4 separate regions of the Homo sapiens genome follow, and all the other regions are linked to region 1. Evidence: fine-mapped expression QTL. A gene starts in region 1. Each other region holds a variant in brackets. All regions are shown on one strand. Distances are between the middles of the regions.

The links. PIP is the estimated chance that this variant, and not a neighbour inherited with it, causes the effect.
Region 2: its variant is fine-mapped to the expression of LYST in whole blood (INTERVAL, PIP above 0.99).
Region 3: its variant is fine-mapped to the expression of LYST in whole blood (TOPMed, PIP above 0.99).
Region 4: its variant is fine-mapped to the expression of LYST in whole blood (TOPMed, PIP 0.98).

The regions. Positions count from the first base shown.
Region 1 is chr1:235,864,260-235,869,410 of GRCh38, forward strand. It overlaps LYST (lysosomal trafficking regulator), which reads right to left and starts at 2,647. Exons shown (of 53, transcript NM_000081.4): 1 at 2,584-2,647. RefSeq lists enhancers at 1,705-1,754, 2,125-2,224 and silencers at 2,345-2,764, 2,815-3,114.
Region 2 is chr1:235,890,497-235,895,647 of GRCh38, forward strand. LOC105373215 (a long non-coding RNA gene) reads left to right here and starts at 1,789. Exons shown (of 5, transcript XR_002958490.2): 1 at 1,789-2,017; 2 at 2,445-2,734. RefSeq lists a silencer at 1,674-1,723. The variant A/G (reference allele first, on the strand shown) is at 2,752.
Region 3 is chr1:235,969,285-235,974,435 of GRCh38, forward strand. It overlaps LINC02768 (long intergenic non-protein coding RNA 2768), which reads right to left and starts at 3,227. Exons shown (of 3, transcript NR_183724.1): 1 at 2,477-3,227. RefSeq lists an enhancer at 2,766-2,815. The variant G/C (reference allele first, on the strand shown) is at 2,513.
Region 4 is chr1:235,936,334-235,941,484 of GRCh38, forward strand. The region is part of intron 2 of LINC02768 (long intergenic non-protein coding RNA 2768); the gene reads right to left. The region is part of intron 2 of LOC105373215 (a long non-coding RNA gene); the gene reads left to right. Among named protein-coding and RNA genes, the nearest start is that of LINC02768, 34 kb to the right of the region's middle. The variant G/A (reference allele first, on the strand shown) is at 2,593.

The DNA.
Region 1 (5,151 bases):
CATTCTTAAACAAGTATCATTGAATATTTTTTTCTTTAAAAACGTGAATGTCTAATTTTATTGTCTTCTAACCAACTCCCACCCTTCTCCCCACCAAACCTACTCCTCTCGTAAACCTAATCTCAGTAAACAAGTACCCCATCTTTCTACTTGTTCGGAACTAAATTTTGGTGTCTTTTACATCTCTACCCTCAATTTATCCTGAAATCAATGACCTCTCACCACCTCCACCAATTCCACTCTGGTCCAAGCTACATTATCTCTGGCCTGGATTAGGGCAACAGTTCCGGATTGGTATCCCAGCTTCTGCTCCTGCTCAACCCTTCCCCTACAACAAAGTCTATTCTCCATCCAGCGCCCAGAATGATCATTTTTAAAAGGCAAGCCTGGGGCCGAGCGCAGTGGCTCACGCCTACAATCGCAGAATGTTGACACGCCAAGGTGGATGGATCGCTTGAGCCCAGGAGTTTGAGACCAGCCTGGGCAACAATGGCGAAACCCCATCTTTACAAAAAATTAGCCAAGCATGGTGGGTGATGTGTGCCTGAAGTCCCAATTACTTCAGAGGCTGAGGTGAGAGGATCACCTGAGCCTGGGAAGTCGAGGCTGCAGTAGGTTGTGATCATGCCACTGCACTCCAGCCTGGGAGACAAAGTGAGATCCTGACTCAAAACTAAAAATAAAAGGTAAGGTTCTTTACTCAAAGAGTGGACTCCCCTTTCCACTGAGAGTAGAAACTCAAGTCCTTAAAAGGGCCTACAAGGCCTTATACAGTCTAATCTCCCACCACACTCACCTCTTTGACTTTATTTCTACTCCTCTTTGCTTTTTCCACCACAGCCAAATCAGCCTCTCTGCTGTCCTCAAACAAGCCCAGCACACAGGGCTTCTGCAAGCCCTTCTGCCTTCCTCTCTGCTAGCACATCCTTCCCTCAGAGAGGTACATGGATTACCCCTCACTTACTTCTGGTCTTGGCTCAAATGATATCTTTTCTAGGAAGCTTTCCCTGGCTGCCTCTAGTTAAAATTGCAAACCTCTCCCGGTTCCCTGCCCTCCCTCTTCCCTGCCCTCCCTCTTCCGTGCTTTTTCTCTGTAGTACTTAACACCATCTGACACAGCACATATTTTATTTGTTTATTATCTGAGGTCCCCACTAGAATATAAGCTCCATGAAGGAGCAGATATTTATGTTTTCTTAGAAAAGTATCTGACACGCAGTAGGTGCTCAATAAATATTTACTAAATACATATATATAATTATATAGTTTGTGAAGTATTTTTATGCAAATTACAGCAATTCATTTTTCCTTATGCCCTCTCTTCTTCAAATTCTCCAATCTTTGTAGTAACAATATGGATGACAGCAAAGAGCTATCAGAAAAAGAGTTGTTGGCCACTTAACAAAGCTCTTTAAAACAGATACCCCATATTAATCAACTACATCTATAAATTGAAAGCTTAAAGTCAACATCTTTATTAGCATAGATGAATCTAGGCGTGGAATTTTAAAATAATAGCGCAGAAGAGCCAAGAATCATCAGGAAGAAAAGTCTAATTCAGTTTGTCCTATCAATCTGTTAAACAAACAATAGGAAAATGCAACCTGCATTTGATCTTCAAGGAAACACTGGCCCAAATTCAACACGAACGCATTCAACACAAGATTCGACTCCCTTAAAATTTTCTATCTGCTTAAAACAAACCCCATTAACTATCAAGTGCCGTCGCTGGGTGTGTATGGTCTGCCGAGCGGATCGGGGATGTTTTGCTATGTTTTGTTTAACCAGATAAGAATTAGCGTTAAGGAAACGTTTCTTAAAGCCTCTGTATCCCCTGGACCATTAAACAACCCCTTCGTTGGGCTTTACACTGTGGTACCGGGGTCTTCTCGGGTAATTTCCCAGCTTATTTAACTCATCAGAAGCGAAGGGGCATCTCAGTCAGGCTCCAGTGATACCGGAGACAGACGGCAGATGTCTCAGGGGATCCCCTGGAAAGAGAGGCTCTCGCCCAGTCAAAGGGTGTCACGGACAGGAGGAAAGAGCGGACCGAGGCGCACGGTGTAGGTGACAGGTGGGCGAGCGCCGCAGGGCAACAGCGCGGGGAGTGACCGGCTGGGTGGTGGCGCGGAAACCGTCAACTCCCATCGTCAACCTGACAGCTTGGGCCCAGCTGGGCTGAGTAGTGCAGCGGCACAGGATCAAAAAATAAAATAAAGGTAGCAACACACCGCCGTCAGCCTGCTCGACCTCGCCCCCCGCGCGCTGCGAAATAAAGTTAGTGCCCAGTGGCCGCTGCAATGGCCCAGAGGGGCCCAGCCGAGCTCCCGCCCGCGGCCCGGCGGCTGTCAAAGGCGGCCCGGCGCCGCGAGAAGTCCCAGAGCCCAGAAGCCAGAGAGGACGCCCCGAGCTGGCGCGTCAGGCCGAGTGCCCTCGCGCCCTCGCGCCCTCAGCCCGGCGGTCCCGGCCCTCAACCCAGGCTGACAGCCACCAGCCCCAAACCGCCTCCCCTCCAGGCCACGCAGAGGGGCCGGGACCCGGAACCTTCTGCCGGCAGCGTCGGCGCCCGGCGGCCGCCTTTACCTGGTTTGTGGCAGCTGCGGCCGCCGCGCACTCCCCCTCTCCCGGAGAACCCCGAGCCGACGCCGCTGCCGCCGCCGCCGCGCACTCCCCACCCCCGCCCGCCCAGGTAACCCAGGAAACCGAGAACACCACCCCCTCCCTCCCCTCGTCCGGACCCAGACCCGCTCGTCTGCGCGTGCGCCCTTGGCTCCGCCTCGCGCGTGTAAGCCCCGCCTCCTCTGGGAGGGCAGCGCCGGCGTCGCAGGCGTGACGCGTGGAACTGCCGAGCCAATAGGGAAGGCAGGGGGGCGGGCCGACCCGCGGGGCTGCAGCCGGGGCCCGGTCTGGGTTTCTCAGCGGTCGGGGGTCGTACCCTGGGTCCGCACCTCCTCCCAGGGCTCTGCGTAGTGGGCTGCGTCAGACCCTGGGGAGTGCGAGCACCGTTTGAGAAGCACCAAACACAAGCGCATCGTCCGCCTCTTCCATTCAACACAGACTGTCAACCTGTCCCATTGTGTAGGTCTAGAGGATGAAGATAGAAGAAATAACGGGAAGGAGTCAGGAGAGGGAGAAAGGGTTACCCACAAGGCACCCCTAGCCTTCCTCTGGGACCTGGAAAAAGCCATATTGTAATGGTTACCGTCGGCTTCTTTCAAGAAACAAAAAGAGCTTTGCAAAGCCACTGCAGAAGTAATTCAGTGCAGTGGTGTATTTTCCAACCGACTCCTGTTCAAACACGGTTTGTATACAGTGCGCACTGTCAGTGTCATATGCCCTAATAGACCAGTCCCTCCAGAGGGTGGGAGCTGTAGGTAAAATCCAGGATGTTTTGGCTGCATCCCCGGCTCTGGGCCCAGCACGCTGCTGGCAGACTGCTGCGGTAGGCAGTTTGGCATTTCAAGGGCCACCCTCCTCACCTCCTAGTCACTGAGACAGCAACGCCAGAGGTACTGGGAAAAAGCCTGAACTGTAATCGTTCGGTAGTTTTCAAGTTCTGCCAAACAATACAAACTATTAATAAGCAGATAATCTACAAATTGACAGGAATTGCTGTAGAATCAACAACTCCCATAATTTTTTGCACAGGAATTATGAAATAGAAATAATTCAGGATATTATGTCCCAAGCCTATATACCAAATGTTACTCCCAATTCCTCAAACTCCCATCTAACCCAATGACAAGCAAAGTGCGTTAAGTTGCCCACTGATGTGGTTTAGAGGGTGCTCTTGGGGAAAATTCCCCACTTTAAAATATGTCTTCTCTGACGTCTGATGTTTAACCATTAGCAGTTCATATCTTTAGGCGAAGATTGCCCACTTCCTCTGGCAGGTAGTCTTTTATTTTTATTTTTTATCTTTTTTTTTTTGAGACAGATTCTCGCTCTGTCGCCCAGGCTGGAGGGCAGTGGCCGGATATCGGCTCACTGAACCCTAACAAGTGCAGGAAATAAATGTCTCAGGGAACTTATCACTCATTTAAGCAGTATATAATGAGCACCTACAATGCGCTAAGTATTGTGCTAGGTGCATGGGCCTGAACTGAAACAAAAAGAGGAAGCCAAACTTAACCTGTTTCGTCATTTTACCTAAAGCTGTGTCTACTCTTATTTATACATCAACTTTCACCCACTAATCTTAAAAACACCCCCCTTTTTTAATGGACAAAAGAAGTCAAAGAAATATTAAGTAACAAGCCAGTTTCTGTTAACCTTGAGTAGAAAATAATAGATTATCATGATTTCATTAAAGCAAAGAAAATGAGACAGACTTTAGATGATAATGGTATACAATTGGCCCTCAAAGTATTATTTGTTTGTAAAAGGCACAAAGTAATGCCATTTGTGACTATTATTTTTTTCGGTACCAGTGTTTTTTATTTTATTTTATTTTCAAGATGCAGCTTCACTCTTTTTCCCTGACTGGAGTGCAGTGGCACAGTCTCGGCTCACTGCAACCTCCGCCTCCCGGGTTCAAGTGATTCTCCTGCCTCAGCCTCCCAAGTAGCTGGGATTACAGGAATGTGCTACCATGCCCGGCTAATTTTGTATTTTTAGTAGAGACAGAGTTTCATCATGTTGGTCAGGCTGGTCTCGAACTCCTGACCTCAGGTGATCCACCCACCTCTACCTCCCAAAGTGCTGGGATTACAGGCATGAGACACCGCTCCTGGCCTCGGTTCCAGTATTTTAACTAAGCTACTGCAGTATGTATTTTATTCAATAGTATCTTAGAACATCGATACTAAATATACATATCAAATAAAACTTAGTTTAAAAGATTTCCTAGGAACACACACAAAATGTGTAGTGAAGAACATGAAAAAGAAGAAAAAAGTAAAGTAATAGGTATATAGAAGAAAGCTCTACTTGGCCGGGCGCAGTGGCTCACGCCTGTAATCCCAGCACTTTGGGAGGCCGAGGCGGGCAGATCACGAGGTCAGGAGATGGAGACCATCCTGGCTAACACGGTGAAACCCCGTCTCTACTAAAAATACAAAAAATTAGCCGGGCGCGGTGGCGGACGCCTGTAGTCTCAGCTAATCGAGAGGCTGAGGCAGGAGAATAGCGTGAACCCGGGAGGCGGAGCTT
Region 2 (5,151 bases), 26 kb after region 1:
CTTACCCCCTGCCCCTCTGCTCAGTGCTTGTAGCTCTCTCTACACTGTTATTTCATCTTTTCATCCCTGCTAAATCTTTGCCCTGAAAAATGCAGCTCCCTTGATCTGAACAAATGCTGTGCCCCACTCTGGCCCTGAGTCCCCCATTAGAGCATCTGGAGGAGATACCGAACCACTTTCCATGTTTTCTTTCTTCCTTCATACTAAACACACTTTCCTCTTGTATGTGCCTTGCTGTGCAAAGTGCAGTTCATTGTTAAAGACAGATATAGAAACAAATACTTACAATATTGTTAAAAACAAATACAGAAACAAATAGTTACAATACTGTTAAAGACAGATACAGAAGCACATAGTTACAATACAATGTAGCAAATTTTGTAATGGGGAACAGATTTACAATGAAGGTTGTGATTTCTTATTAAGATGGACTCCAGAGACTCTCAAAGGAGCTATTTTTAGAAAAATTGTGTTGTGAATTACATATGCAATTAATAATAATAGCTAACATTTCTTGATCACAATTTCTAGTTGCCTTGTGTGACTTAATCCATGTAAATCTCAGAGTAAGCCTAAGTGGTACATACTGTTATCATCCCTATTTTTGAGTTGAGGAAATTTAGGCTCAGAGAGATTAAGCACACAGCTAGAGAGTGCTTGAGCCAGAATTTGAAGCTGGATTGCTTGTCTTATCTCCAGAGCCTCCCTCATAAGCACTATGTTCCCTCCAATAATGGCCAGAAAGCAATATAATGAAGTTTCTGTTCTTGCCAGAAAGTTTGCCAACATTTTTTCTTTTTCTTTTTTTTTCTTTTTTTTTTTTTTTTTTGAGACGGAGTCTCGCTCTGTCGCCCAGGCCGGACTGCGGACTGCAGTGGCGCAATCTCGGCTCACTGCAAGCTCCGCCTCCCGGGTTCACGCCATTCTCCTGCCTCAGCCTCCCGAGTAGCTGGGACTACAGGCGCCCGCCACCGCGCCCGGCTAATTTTTTGTATTTTTAGTAGAGACGGGGTTTCACCTTGTTAGCCAGGATGGTCTCGATCTCCTGACCTCATGATCCACCCGCCTCGGCCTCCCAAAGTGCTGGGATTACAGGCGTGAGCCACCGCGCCCGGCCTTGCCAACATTTTTTCAAACTTTTCAAACATATAAAACAATATAGGTGTGCTAAGTGTAATGTCGAGTCCTGGATTGGATCCTGAAATGGAAAAAGGGCGTTTGTGAAAAAACTGGTGAAATCTGAATAAAATCTAACGTTTAGTTGTACCAGTGTTAATTTCTGAGTTATGTTCATTTCTGTACCATGGTTATGTAAGATGTCAACACTGGGGGGAATGGGACGAAGGGGTATATGGGAACTCTTTGGACTACATTTGCAATTTTTCCATAAATTATCCCAAAATAAGACTTGCATTTAAAATGACAACATTATGGATATGAGACTTCATTGATATGTTTCTCCCATGGCCTCTTCCTAGAGATCATCCTTATCCAGAATGTGGTGTTTATCATTCAAAGGGCCTAACACAACTATTACTATACTAAATGTCAGTCATGAGCAATGCAGAGGATTTCTCAAGGCGTTTGGGTTTCAGTGAGGGATCAGGATTATGGGTCTTCCGAGAGACCCTGCTCCTCTTTCAGACAGGGGCACTGCCATAAGTCCCTCTCCCAATCAACCCAGTTTCACTCTCACCAACTACCCAGCCCAGACTTAGGCCCACTGTTGACCCCACAAAGGAGGCCACACCCTCCCTGCAGCTCCTGTTGCTCAGCCTTCCCTAAGCTGTGCACCACCCTCTCACCCAAACGAAGGCAGCTGGCCCTGAAGTTCTCTGAGCTTGAGGACAAAAAAAGACCTCTGTGAGTTGTCAGGCTCTGTTACAGTCTGGGTCAGCAGACAAGAGTCCCAGGGCTCGGCCGTCTTCTCTAGGAGAGAAAATATTCGTGCCATATAGCGTGTTCTAAGAGTTCTCACCAGAAGCCCAGAAAGTTCTGTATTTACTCAGCATTCAAGGTGTGTACCCAGACCACAACGCTACCCTAGGGGGCCCAGCTCTAGGACAGGGGATGGCCCAGAGCTCTGAAATTTGAGGTATTTTCTAGTATCTAACAGTCATTAGAAGGGCAACAGCTCTGAGACCTTATTCAACTATTTATTGAAATATTTGTTTTTCCCCATTGTCTATTTATAAAGGTAACTGGGAGGACAGAGGTTCATAGAGGCTCTCAAAGAAGAAGCCTAGAAAACCCACCAGGGAGGGTGGGGAGGGAAGCCCTGGGACCTGATCAGGGCTGTGCAAGCCCGACCTGACCCATGACCTGAGGCTGACCCACAACCTGAGGACAAGGGAAGAGAAGACACTAGGGCCTGGCCAAGGTCTCTGGGAAAATAAATAGGCCTATCTGTTGTCCTTTGACCTGCACATACTGTTCTTTTGCAGGGAAAACAGACCCTGTATTTTTGGGATTCCTGAAAGGTGACCAGGTGAGAGCAAAGCCCAACTTCCTGGGGAAAAGCTCTCAGCGCAGTGAATGCTACATTCGGAGGTAGGAAGGCTCTGGATGTGAGTCTTCATGTTTGTTTTTTGTTTTTTGTTTTTTTTTCTCTAAAATTACCAAAAAAGAGGAATATCCACAGAAGCAGAAGTAGGAATGGGGAAGGAGGGGACAAGTTTAGACCAAGCTCTTCTGTGACCTCACTTCTGCTTTTGAAGTCCCACAGCTCTATAAGGTAAGGTTACTTGTGTT[A/G]TTAGCGCTTAAGTCAATATTGGAGGTGATAAGTTCTTGTTTTCTCAGCTAATTTACCTAATTTCTTCCGAAATTCCTATGAAGTATACTGGATTGTGAAATTAGTTCCTGCAGAGACACCTGAATCATGTCTCAAAGAAGGATCATTATCTTAGGGTACAATATCATGATTTTATAACATAAAACTAAGTCATGCAGCCCTACTGTCTTGGGAAAAAAAAAAACATTTCACAGTTTTAATAACAATTAGGATTATCATTGTTTATGTTTCCAAGTAGAAACAAAGTTTCTCATTTTACGTAGTTATGTGCGCTCCAAAGAGTCACGGACTGGGAGGCTGAAGACCTGAATTTTGCTCCAGTTCCGCCGTAACCATCTATTTGATAGTGGGCCTCAATTTCCTCATCTGTGAATGAGAAGTGACACTCCTTTATTGCTAAGAGGCTGCAATCATTGATATTCATTAAGCTGGAGAGGAAAGTGGGCATATGCAAATGTAAAATCCACATGATATGTAAGCATATACTACATAGGCAATGTAATCATGAAGGCATTATGATTAATAGTATTAAATGAGAAATGTTGATATCATAGCATTAGCAGAAGAAATTCTCTCTGGAGATAATTAATATTGAAGCTGGATGAATATTTATGGGATATTTGCCTTCCCAATTTTTCGCAATGATTTTCAGGAAAGAAGTTTAGACAACTTTCCCTGGTAACTTTGTCTCAATGTCTAAATGGCCTAATGGTGAGCGAAACATTCCTTTCATTTAAGCCACTGCTACCTTTGCTCTTAATTCAATGGGGTGGGGCAGAAAGGGCATGGATTTAGATAAGAGGCAGTCCTGGCTTGGCCACCTACTAGCTTTGTGCAAGGCAAATTACCCTTTCAATCCCAGGCCCCTTTTCTATTAAATGAGGATAATAATAATGCCTAGAGCTAGTTTAGATGAAAAATGCTTCATCAGGTGACAAAATGCTTATGATTATCACAGATTCTGCAGTGTTGTATTTATAAAAGACAAGGTGTGACCATTCTAAGATTTTAATCAATTGATTAACTTAATCCAATTAAATGCAGCTACATGGAAGAATCAATCACATAAACGTGTATATATATATATATATATATATATATATTTTTTTTTTTTTTTTTTTTTTTTTGAGACGGAGCTTTGCTCTTGTTGCCCAGGCTGGAGTGCAATGGTGTGATCTCAGCTCCATGCAACCTCTGCCTCCCTGGTTCAAGCGATTCTCCTGCCTCAGCCTCCCGAGTAGCTGGGATTACAGGCATGTGCCACCACGCCCGGCTAATTTTGTATTTTTAGTAGAGACAGGGTTTCTCCATGTCAGTCAGTCTGGTCTCGAACTCCTGACCTCAGGTGATCCGCCCGCCTCGGCCTCCCAAACTGCTGGGATTACAGGCATGAGCCACTGTGCCCAGCCAACATAATCGTTTTTTAAAAATTATATTTATATATACATATACATGTAGATATACACACCACACACACACACACACACACACACACACACACACACACACGTATATTTTTTAACTTTTTTTTTTTTTGAGGCAGAGTTTCGCTCTTATTGCCCAAGCTGGAGTGCAATGGCACCATCTTGGCTCACTGCAACCTCTGCCTCCCGGGTTCAAGCGATTCTCCTGCCTCAGCCTTCAGAGTAGCTGGGTCTACAGGCATGCACCACCACACCCGGCTAATTTTTGTATTTTTAGTGGAGACAGGGTTTCACCATGTTGGTCAGGCTGGTCTTGAACTCCTGACCTCAGGTGATCCACCCACCTCAGCCTCCCAAAGTGCTGGGACTACAGTATGAGCCACCATGCCGGCCTATATTTTAACTTTTATTCTAGGTTCAGGGGCTCAGGTGCAGATTTGCTATATAGGTAAATTACGAGCCACGGAGGTTTGGTATACAGATTATTTCGTCACTCAGGTAATAAACATCGTACTAAATAGGTAGTTTTTTTATCTTCACACCTCTCCCATCTTCCACCCTCAAGTAGGCCCCGTGTTTGTTGCTCCCTTCTTTGTGTCCATGTGCACTCAATGTACATAAACATAATCTGGAGTGAAAGAAGCCAGACATAGCAAAGTAGGTTCGGTCTGATTTTATGAAGAGAGCTTCTAAGAGTCTGGTCATGTTCTATTTCTTGATCAATGTGTTGTTCATGATTGTGTTCAGTTTGTAATCATTCATCAGATTGTGAACATAAGATGTGTGCTATTTTCTATGTATGTATGTTATACTTCAATAAAAAGTTAACATTTTTGTGTTTGAGATGATGGATATGCTGATACTGTGATCTGATCATTATATATTATAAATATCAAAACATCACTATATACCTCATGACTATGTACAATTATTATT
Region 3 (5,151 bases), 110 kb after region 1:
TGGGGTGGGAGATTGTGTTCAGGCCATTTTGGAAAATACCATATGCCACAGGGTGCAGCCTGGACATTTTCCGCCTCATGACTTCTTGGCTGGTACTTTTGTTCTAATTCGTACTGAGCAGGAATTGACTACATGTAGATTAAAACCTTCCGTATGTCCCCAAATCCCCCAGAACAAAAAACCAACAAAAAAGCTGGGCGCAGTGGCTCACGCCTGTAACCAGCACTTTTTGAGAGGTTGAGGCTGGCAGATCATGAGGTCAGGAGTTCAAGACCAGCCTGGCCAACATGGTGAAACCCCATCTCTACTAAAAATACAAAACTTAGCCAGGTGTGGTGGCACATGCCTGTAATCCCAGCTGCTGGAGAGGCTGAGGCAGGAGAATAGCTTGAACCCAGGAGACAGAGGTTGCAGTGAGCCAAGATTGCAGTGAGCCAAGATCACGCCATTGCACTCCAGCCTGGGCAACAGAGCAAAACCCTGTCTCAAAAAAACAAACAAACAAACAAACAACAACAACAACAACAAACCCTTGGGGAATATTATTTGCAAAATAGACAACAAAAGGTTAATTAGCTTTAAAATGTAAAGGACACTTATAAATCAGTGAGATTCTCCCAATTAGAAAAAAGAACTGAGGACTAGAAGGACAATTGACAAAAGAACTTTAAGTGGCTAGTGTGCATTTCAAAAGTTTACCGCAACTTAAAGAGTGTAATTTTTTTTCTTTTTAGAGACTGAGCCTCAGTATGTTGCCCAGGATGGGCCTCAAACTCCTAGCTTCAAGCAGTCCTCCCATGTTGGCCTCCCAAAGTGCTGGGATTACAGGCGTGAGTCACTGCAACCAGCCAATAATGTAAATTTTAATAAACAAACACCACCTATGTAATTGGCAAAAATGAAAAAATAAACTATGCAAAGGCAAAAACATAGGTAAACGGGCCCTCTCCAACACTCCCGCTGGTGGAAGTATAAAGTGGTACAAACTTTCTGTAAGGCAGTTGGGGAGTATCTATTGAAAGTCTTAAATTTTTAAATAATCCTGAGTTGAAATTTATCCTAAAGATATTAATAAGGACACTGAGGGTCGGGCGTGGTGGCTCATGCCTGTAATCCCAGCACTTTGGGAGGCCGAGGCGGGTGAATCATGAGGTCAGGAGATTGAGACCATCCTGGATAACATGGTGAAACCACATCCCTACTACAAATATAAAAAATTAGCTGGGCATGGTGGCACATGCCTGTGGTCGCAGCTGCTCGGGAGGCTGAGGCAGGAGAATTGTTGAACCCGGGAGGCGGAGGTTGCAGTGAGCTGAGATTGCACCACTGCACTCCAGCCTGGGCAACAGAGCGTGACTCTCAAAAAAAAAAAAAAAAAAAAAAAAAGGACACTGATATTAGTATGTGGGTGTTTATTGGTTTATTGTTATTTATCACATCAAAAAACACATAGAAACACCCTAAAAGTTCATCAATAAATGAACTGGTGAGAGTTTATTGTCCATATAATAGAGTATGATACTATTATGTAGTTGATCAAAGTAATGTTCATATGCACATTTATTTAAATGGAAAACAAAAATACGGAAAAGTATCACAGGATCACATTTTTTGTTATATATATATCTTACAAAAATATATGTAAAAGTATTGTGTGTGTGTGTTTACAACATTTCTGGACAAGATTGTAGTGATGAGGCCATTATTGAGTAATGAAATTACTGTTATTTGTTTTTCTTGTGCCTTTATTTTCCAACTTTCTAAATGAAAATGTGCTGAATACAAATAAATAATAATGTAAGATAAAGTAAAAATAAATTTTCATTTAAGGTATTTCTTAAAAAGGGGGGTGAGGAAGGGTATTTAGAGTAAACCAAATCTGGAACTGGACTCTGCTCTGACGGCGTGACCTTTGCCAAGTTACTTCACCTCCTTAACCCTCAGTTTCCTGACTTACTCAATGGGCACAATAAATTCTACTACATAAGGTTATCCTGAGTTAGTTTTCCCATTTCCATCCAGCTAATAAAAGCTTCTTGCTGCACTCTCTCTCCTGAGCCTTCTCCCTTCTCTGATCCCCTTAACAAAGTGGTTCGAAGCAATCATTTAGCATCACCTGTTATTACTACCTGCTTAGTGACTAGACGCCCACTTATTTGCAAAAGCCCTGCATTTTCTGGAATTAGCCTGCTATTCCGTGTTTTCCACTTAGATTCACTCAGAACCTGGTCCATAAGGAGACGTATGCACTTTTGCATACACAGAATACACTCAGGAATACTTCTGTGTTTTCGTACCTCGGTGTAAGATGCTGAGCCCACGGCTGGGGATCTCGTGTGACGAATGTCTGCAAATGTTTGAGTAAGGAGATGACTTGGGGAGGAAAAGGGCTGGGCTATTTGGTGGAAATCTGAATTTAGATGAAGAGGCTTGACCATAATTGGGAAGTTCTTTTGCTAGCAGTTGGGCAACTCACCAATATGAAGAAAGCTCTTGAGTGGGACGATGGGAA[G/C]GCCCGAGCATAGCTTCTTTTGGGGAAGTTATCCGGGTAGCCAGGCCTGGGACGCTCCCCGCGCTCCGCCCTCACTTCTCTCTTCCCCCAAAAACAGGCATTGAGAGGCTCTTACTGCCCTCACGTGGCCCCTTCTGGAACTGTCTTTGAGGAGACCCGCCCAGATTTAAACTGAATCACGGGGGCTGGAGAGCACACACGCAGGCTTGCCAGTTAAGCTCATCTGTCCCCACTTAAGCTTCTAGCTACCAGGAAGCCGCTCTTCGAGCCTGTTTTCAAGCCTTTTTGGCCCTTCCGTCTCTTAAGTCCATGTTGTCTGAGCAAAGACCCTTTCTCCGTTGTAAGGAATTCTAAATCCTTTCGGCTGCAGCTTTCAGCAGCGCCTGGCATCCTGGCGGATGAGAAAAAGGGGAAAAACAGCAGCCCAACTTGAGAACCAGAGCTGGGCCGTGACGCTGCTGCGGGGGACTCTGGGTCCCGTCTTCCCCGCTTTCGAGACCTGTGGTCTTCAAATGTGCTCGATAGTACACTCCCTAAAAGAATTTTTGCAAAGTCCTGTTTTTCCCTGTTAAATCAAGTTTAGCTTAAAGCTACTCACATATTTTAAGTTCAGCCTAAAGGTTTCTCTGTGCCTGTAACCTAAAGGGAAGTGTAAATAGTCCCTCTCCCCCTTCACCCTCTCCTCTCCCGCTTTCTGTTTCTGCCTTATCTCTCTGACTCTTCTGCCTCCCTCCTCTGTTTTTAAGGGCCTGCCTGGATAACCCAGGATAATTTGCCTGTTTTAACGTCAGCTACTTAGTCATCTAAATTCCATCTGCAAAGTCCCTTCAGAGCAGTACAAAATTAGAATCTTGAAATCTTTAGAATTCGGCCAGCCACAACAACGATCAGCATTTTGCCAACCTTAGGTATCCAGGAGTTTTTGTTTTTAATTACAGTGATTTTTAAAAAACAGCTTATTTATTTATTTGACAGGGTCTTGCTCTGTGGCCCAGGCTGGAGTGCAGCGGCATGATCATAGCTCACTGTAACCTCAAACTCCCGGGCTCAAGCAATCCTCCTGCCTCAGCCTCCTGAGTAGCTAGGACTACAGGCACTTGCCACTACACCCGGCTAATTTTTAAAAGATTTTGTAGAGATGGGGGTCTCACTATATTGCCCAGGCTGGTCTCAAATTACTGGCCTCAAGTTGTCCTCCTGCCTCAGCCTCCTAAAGTGCTGAGATTACAGATGTGAGCCACTGTGCCCACCCAAAACAGCTTTATTGAGATATAATTCACATGCTATGTAATTCACCCAAAGTGTACCTGCAATGGTTTTGGGTATATTACATTATTAATTTTAAAAATTGTAAAATATGTATATATCATGAAATTTGCCATGTTAATAATTTTTTTTTTTGAGACAGAATCTTGCTCTGTTGCCAGGCTGGAGTGCAATGGCACGATCTCAGCTCACTGCAACCTCCGCCTCCCGGGTTCAAGCGATTCCTCTACCTCAGCCTCCTGAGTAGCTGGGACTACAGGTGCGCACCACCGCACCCGGCTAATTTTTTACATTTTAGTAGAGACGGGGTTTCACCATGTTGGCGAGGATGGTCTTGATCTCCTGACCTTGTGATCCGCCCGTCTTGGCCTCCCAAAGTGCTGGGATTACAGGCGTGAGCCACCGTGCCCAGCCATTAATAATTCTTAAGTGTACAAGTCACTGACATTTATTACATTCGCAATATTGTGCAACCATCACCACTATTTCCAATACTTTTCATTTTCCCAGGTAAGAATTCTGTAGCCATCGAGCAATAACTCTCCATTCCACCTCCCCACAGCCCCCGGTAACCTTTGATCTACTTTCAGTCTCCATGAATTGGTACATTCTAGATACCTCATATAAATGGAAGCGCATATATTGCTTGATAGTTTGTGTCTGGCTTATTTCCCACAGCATAATGTCCTGACGGTTCATCTGTGTTGTAGCATGTATCAGGATTTCATTTGTTAGGCTCAGTGATATTCCATTTTATGTACATAACGTATTTTGTTTATCCATTCATCTGTTGATGGACACTTGGGTTGTTTCCATCTTTTGGCTACAGTGAATGATATTGCAATGGACAGTAACACAGAAGCATCTGTTCCAGCCCTTGTTTTCTATTATTTTGGGTATAGTCCTAGGAGTGGAACTGCTGGATCATATAGTAATTCTATATTCAACTTTTTGAGGAACCACCAAGCTGTCTGTTTTCATTCCCATCAGCAACGGACAACGTTTCCAGATGCTCTCCAGTACTTGTTTTGTTTTGTTTTGTTTTGATAAAAGCCATCTTAATACTGTAAACTGGTGTCAAATTGTGGTTTTTATTTGCATTTACCTAATGACTAATGATATTGAGCATCTTTTCATATGCTTATTGGCCATTTGTATATCTTCTTCATATAAATGTTTATTCAAATCCTTTACTCATTTTTAAATTGTTTGCTTTTGTTGTTGAAATGTAGTTATATTCTGAATATTAATTCCTTATCACATATAGAGTTTGCAAATATTTTCTCCCATTCCATGGGTTGTCTTTTTACTCTCTTGATAGTATCCTTTGATGCAAAAATGTTAATTTTGATGAAGTCCAGCTTACCTGTTTT
Region 4 (5,151 bases), 72 kb after region 1:
ATAACTATAATGATGGTATATAGAGAGTAAGAGAAAGAAAAAAGAGAGGGAGATAAAGCAAACGTGGCAAAATATTAACAATCAGTGAATCCAAAGAGTATATGGAGTTCATTGTATTATTCTTGCAACTTTTCTGTAAGGTTAAAATTCTTTCAAAATAAGTTTTTAAAAAATGTTCATGTTAAAGTCAGGGGTAAAACCATGGAGACAGGTGTAGCGTAATAAAAGCAACGGCTAACACACACAGTGCTTTGCAATGTGCCAGGCAGTTTATACGTATTACATTGTGTAATCATCAAAGCCACCCTATCGGGTAGGTATTATTATTGTCATCCCCATTTTACAGATGGGGAAACTTTGGCTCCAAGAAGCTGAATATCTTAAATCAGCAAGGTCTTATAGCCAGTAAGTGGAAGAGCTGGGATTTTTTTTTTTTTTTTTTTTTTGAGAGAGGGTCTGGCTCTCTCACTTAGGCTGGAGTCCAGTGGTGCCATCTTGGATCACTGCAACCTCCACCTCCTGGGCTCAAGCTATCCTCCTGCCTCAGCTTCCCAAATAGCTGGGACTACAGGTGCATGCCACCACACCTAATTTTTGTATTTTTTGTAGAGATGAGTTTTCACTATGTTGCTCAGGCTGGTCTTGAACTCCACCGTGGCACAGCCACCGTGCCTGTGCTGTGAGCCTGTAGTCCTAGCCAGTTGGGAGGCTGGGGTGGGAGGATTGCTTGAGCCCAGGAATTCGAGGCTACAGTAAGCTGTGATGGCACCACTGCACTCCAGCCTGGGTGACAGAGTGAGATTCCAACTCAAAATAACCCAAAATAGCCCATTCCTGGCTACCGTGACAAAAGTCTCTTGGCACTCTCTCTGTCTCATCTCCCTCTGTCTCTACACACACCCACACACCCACTCATGGTTCTTTCGTTGTGAATCCCCCAGAGGCATCACTATATACAACAGCATAGCCTCTGCCTGGCCCCGATAACCACCCACCACTCTGAGAAGCTGCTCTGTTGGGGAAGATCTGGTTGCCATGAGTTCCTGTGACAACCACCCCAGAGGAGAGAACAGGAACCCTACTGTTTAAGGCAGATAGGTCCGATGCGCTATCTTGGACCCCAGTTGTTCCTTTAGGAACAGCTGAAGTTGGAAATTGTAAATGCAGTGCTGACCAGCAAGCAGTGGATGGGAAATTTAGGTCAAGGTGTTTACAAAAAGGAGAGAGCGAGGTCTGGGAAATCTGAAAACAGTTCTTGCAGCCCATCTACCCCAAACCAGTGCCAACTTCACTTAGGAACAGGTCAGAAGAAAGTGACCCAGGAATGGGGGCCTTTTTGGAGCAACTGGCTTAGTTAACCGGAAACGTTTCCAGTTTCTCTTCAGAGATTGGCTGGGATGAAGACACTGAGCTTCCTGCCCAGCCTGCTGGGCGCAGGTTGACGTTGGCTGGAGGAAGGAGAGGAGCCTAAGATATCCTTTAGAGGAGACACAATTTTGAAAAGGAGGATTCAGGCAATGAAAGTCTTAGATCCCTTTAGTGTGATTTTAAATTATTTTTAGGTGGCTACAAGTGAAATGTGAAACATCCTCTGTCACTTGAGGTAATACTATTAATTTCTATTTTATTTTATTTTATTTTATTTATTTTATTTTGAGATGGAGTCTCACTCTTTTGACCAGGGTAGAGTGCAGTGGCGCGACCTCGGCTCACTGCAAGCTCTGCCTCCCAGGTTCACGCCATTCTCCTGCCTCAGCCTCCCGAGTAGCTGGGCCTGCAGGCGCCCGCCACCATGCCCAGCTAATTTTTTGTGTTTTTAGTAGAGACGGGGTTTCACCGTGTTAGCCAGGATGGTGTCAATCTCCTGACCTTGTGATCCACCCACCTCGGCCTCCCAAAGTGCTGGGATTACAGGCATGATCCACCGCGCCCAGCCTTTATTTTTAATTTTTCTTAGAGACAGGGTCTCATTCTGTCACCCAGGCTGGAGTGCCGTGGCGTAATCACAGTTCACTGCACCTTCAACCTCCTGGGCTCAAGCCATCCTCCCACCTCAGTTACTTGAGTAGCTGGGACTACAGAAGCACCCCAGTATGTCTGGCTAGTTTTTAAATATTTTTGGTAGAGACAAGATCTCCCTGTGTTGCCCAGGCTGCTCTCAAACTCGTGGCCTCAAGAAGTCCTCCCGCTTGGACTTTCCAAAGTGCTGGATTACAGGTGAGAGCCACCTATTTACTTCAAATCTCACAGTATACGCTTAGCTGTCCCTTGCTGCCATACTGGCCGTGAGTCGTGACCTCAACCTGTTCTAAATTTTTAAGATGATTAAAGTGGACAGTGCCTCACGTAAACACCACCACCAGAGTGAATAACCAGGGGCCCAGCTTCCTCCTGAAGGTGCATTTATATGTTTATGTCAAATGCACAATCACAACCCTTGTGCATTATTGGACTGCCTGTATTAAAAGAGAATGTTTTGCTGAGAAGGTTGAGTGCCCTGGAAGGAAGTTGCTCAATCTAAGTGGAAACCAAACCCTAGCTTTGGTTTCCTCGGGAAATTTTGCAGTAACTACTTCTCTATAATTAGTGAGC[G/A]TGGGTTTGACCAAGCCCTTAGCCTAGATCCTGCCATAGTCCTATGTAGACATAGCAGTGCCCAGACCTAGAGCCATGAGACTGGTCATCTTTGTTATCCTGTAACCATGCAGGTGTTGAGTCTTAGAAGGAACCACCCAGTGTGGGAGTTTTCAGGTTTTTTTCTAAGTCTACAGTGGATTGAAGGGAAGGAGGAGGAGGAGGAGGAGAAGGAGGGGGGAGGAGAAGGCTGGGTTCCTAGCAGCTTTTCCGTCATGTACTGCACACAAGCAGGTCCACATTTGAAAGGAAGTCCTATGATCAAAAAAAAGTGGAAAGGAATTAACCACCATTGATTCCTCTAACTTTGCCGTCTTACTGATAAGGAAATGAAGATCCAGAGAGGTTAAGTGACTGGCCTGAGGTCATGAGTTTATGATAAATGGCAGAGGCTTCGGACCAGGGCCCGTTCTCAGTACTGCACACCAGTCACACTGATGACAGCAGAGTGACAGGTACTGTTGATAAGCCTCTCGATAGACAGACTGACAGTCAATCAATATCTACTGACTCCTACTATATAGGGAGCTTTATACTGGCTTCTGAGAGATACTCATGGCTTCTCTCCCACAAAGAGCTTACGTTATTCTGTGAGCCATGACACATGTTCAAAACATGTAAGTAACAGTGCAAAACAAGAGTGGTAGAGTGTCAGGAAAAAATGCCATAGGAATCAGCAGAGGGAGAGCTTTCTATGAGGAACCCTGGTGGGGGAGGTTTCACAGGGGAGGTGAGCCTTGGAGGATGTATTTCATTCACACAGGTAGAGGAGGGCAGCCCTTGGAGACACTGTGAGGACAGAGTGTCAGTGCAGAAATGGCAGGTTCTGTGAGGACATAACAGGGTGTCTTGGGTGGAGGTATTTCACACTAGGAAATACTGAGCGTGAAGGCTGAATAGGGGACTTGGAATGTAGCCATTAAAAGAGGATTTTGGCCAGGTGTGGTTGCTCACCCCTGTAATCCCAGCATTTTGAGGGGCTGAGGCTGGAGGATCATGTGAGTCTGGGAGTTCGAGACCAACCTGGGCAACATAGCAAGACCCTATCTCTACAAAAAATTTAAAAAATTAGCCGGGCATGGTGGTGGACACCTGTGGTCCCAGCTATTTGGGAGGCTGAAGTGGAGGATCTCTTGAGTCCAGGAGGTTGAGGCTGCAGTGAGCTGTGATCGTGCCACTGCTCTCAAGACTGGGTGACAGGGTGAGCCTCTATCTCTAAAACAAAAGATAGCTTTAAAAATGTATAAATAATTTAATTTTTTAAAAATGAAGGGGGAATTTAACCTTTATGCAATTATGCTCTACAAGGTGGTTGGGGAGAACAGGGATGAGATGACACTGCCTGGGGAAGGTTAGTGTGGCTGCAAGGTGCTGGGTACATTAGACAGCAAAGAGCTGTGGGTCAGGGAGTGGATGAGCACCCAGAACTTGGTGCTGGCAGAGCGAAGAGATCAACCCGTTGGCTTCCCCACCCTCATTCTCCTCCCAACTGACCTGCAAGTCACAGCACTGCAGTATCATGTCGACACTCACTGCTGGGTACGTAGCTTAGGCTTTCACCACCCCACCACCCAACCCGGTTTCATCATCACGCTTCTGGCCCTTGGTCCCACTTCCCTGCCCTACTTATGGCTACCAGAATTCTCTGGCTATAAAACCAATGGTACCATGTCTTCATGCTACTTTAATACTCAGGCAACTCAATGTCTGTAGGATAAGTCCACACACCTTTGTAGGGTAGACGAGGCCCTTCAATGCCTGGCTGTGCCTACTCATGTTCCCCTCTCACCTTGCACCCTTGGCTCCAGACTGATGACCTCACAGTTCCTCCTAAAAACAATGTGTATGACCCACTGTGCATTTCTGGAGCTGTACCTTTGCAAACAGATTTCCTTCTTTGCAGAAAGTCTTTTCCTATTTGCGTTCCTACCTTTTCTTTGGGACTCACTTCAAACATATCATCTACCATCTATCATCAAACATATCAGCTACCTTCAGGAAGCCTCCCTTCCTTGATGCTCAGATTCCTGGCACTGAGAGCCTGTTGGCTCTTCCACTGTTCCTGTTCTGTCTTCACTTGTTTTTTTATTATTTATTTATTTTTGAGATGGAGTCTCACTCTGTTGCCCAGGCTGGAGTGCAGTGGCGTGATCTCAGCTCACTGCACCCACCACCTCCTGGGTTCAAACAATTCTCCTGCCTCAGCCTCCTGAGTAGCTGGGATTATAGATGCCCGCCACCATACCCAGATCTTTTTTGTATTTTTAATAGAGACGGCGGGGGGTCTCACCATATTGGCCAGGCTGGTCTCGAACTCCTGACCTCAGGTGATCCGCCCACCTCGGCCTCCCAAAGTGCTGGGATTACAGGCATGAGCCACCGTGCCTGGCTCCATTTGTTTAAATATCTGCTTCCTCTGCAAGTGGTGAGCCCAGGACCTGATTCTCATTCTACGTATTCCCAGGGCTTGATGGGACTCATTGTTCATAGGAAGGAGCTTGATAGTTGTTTGATGAATGA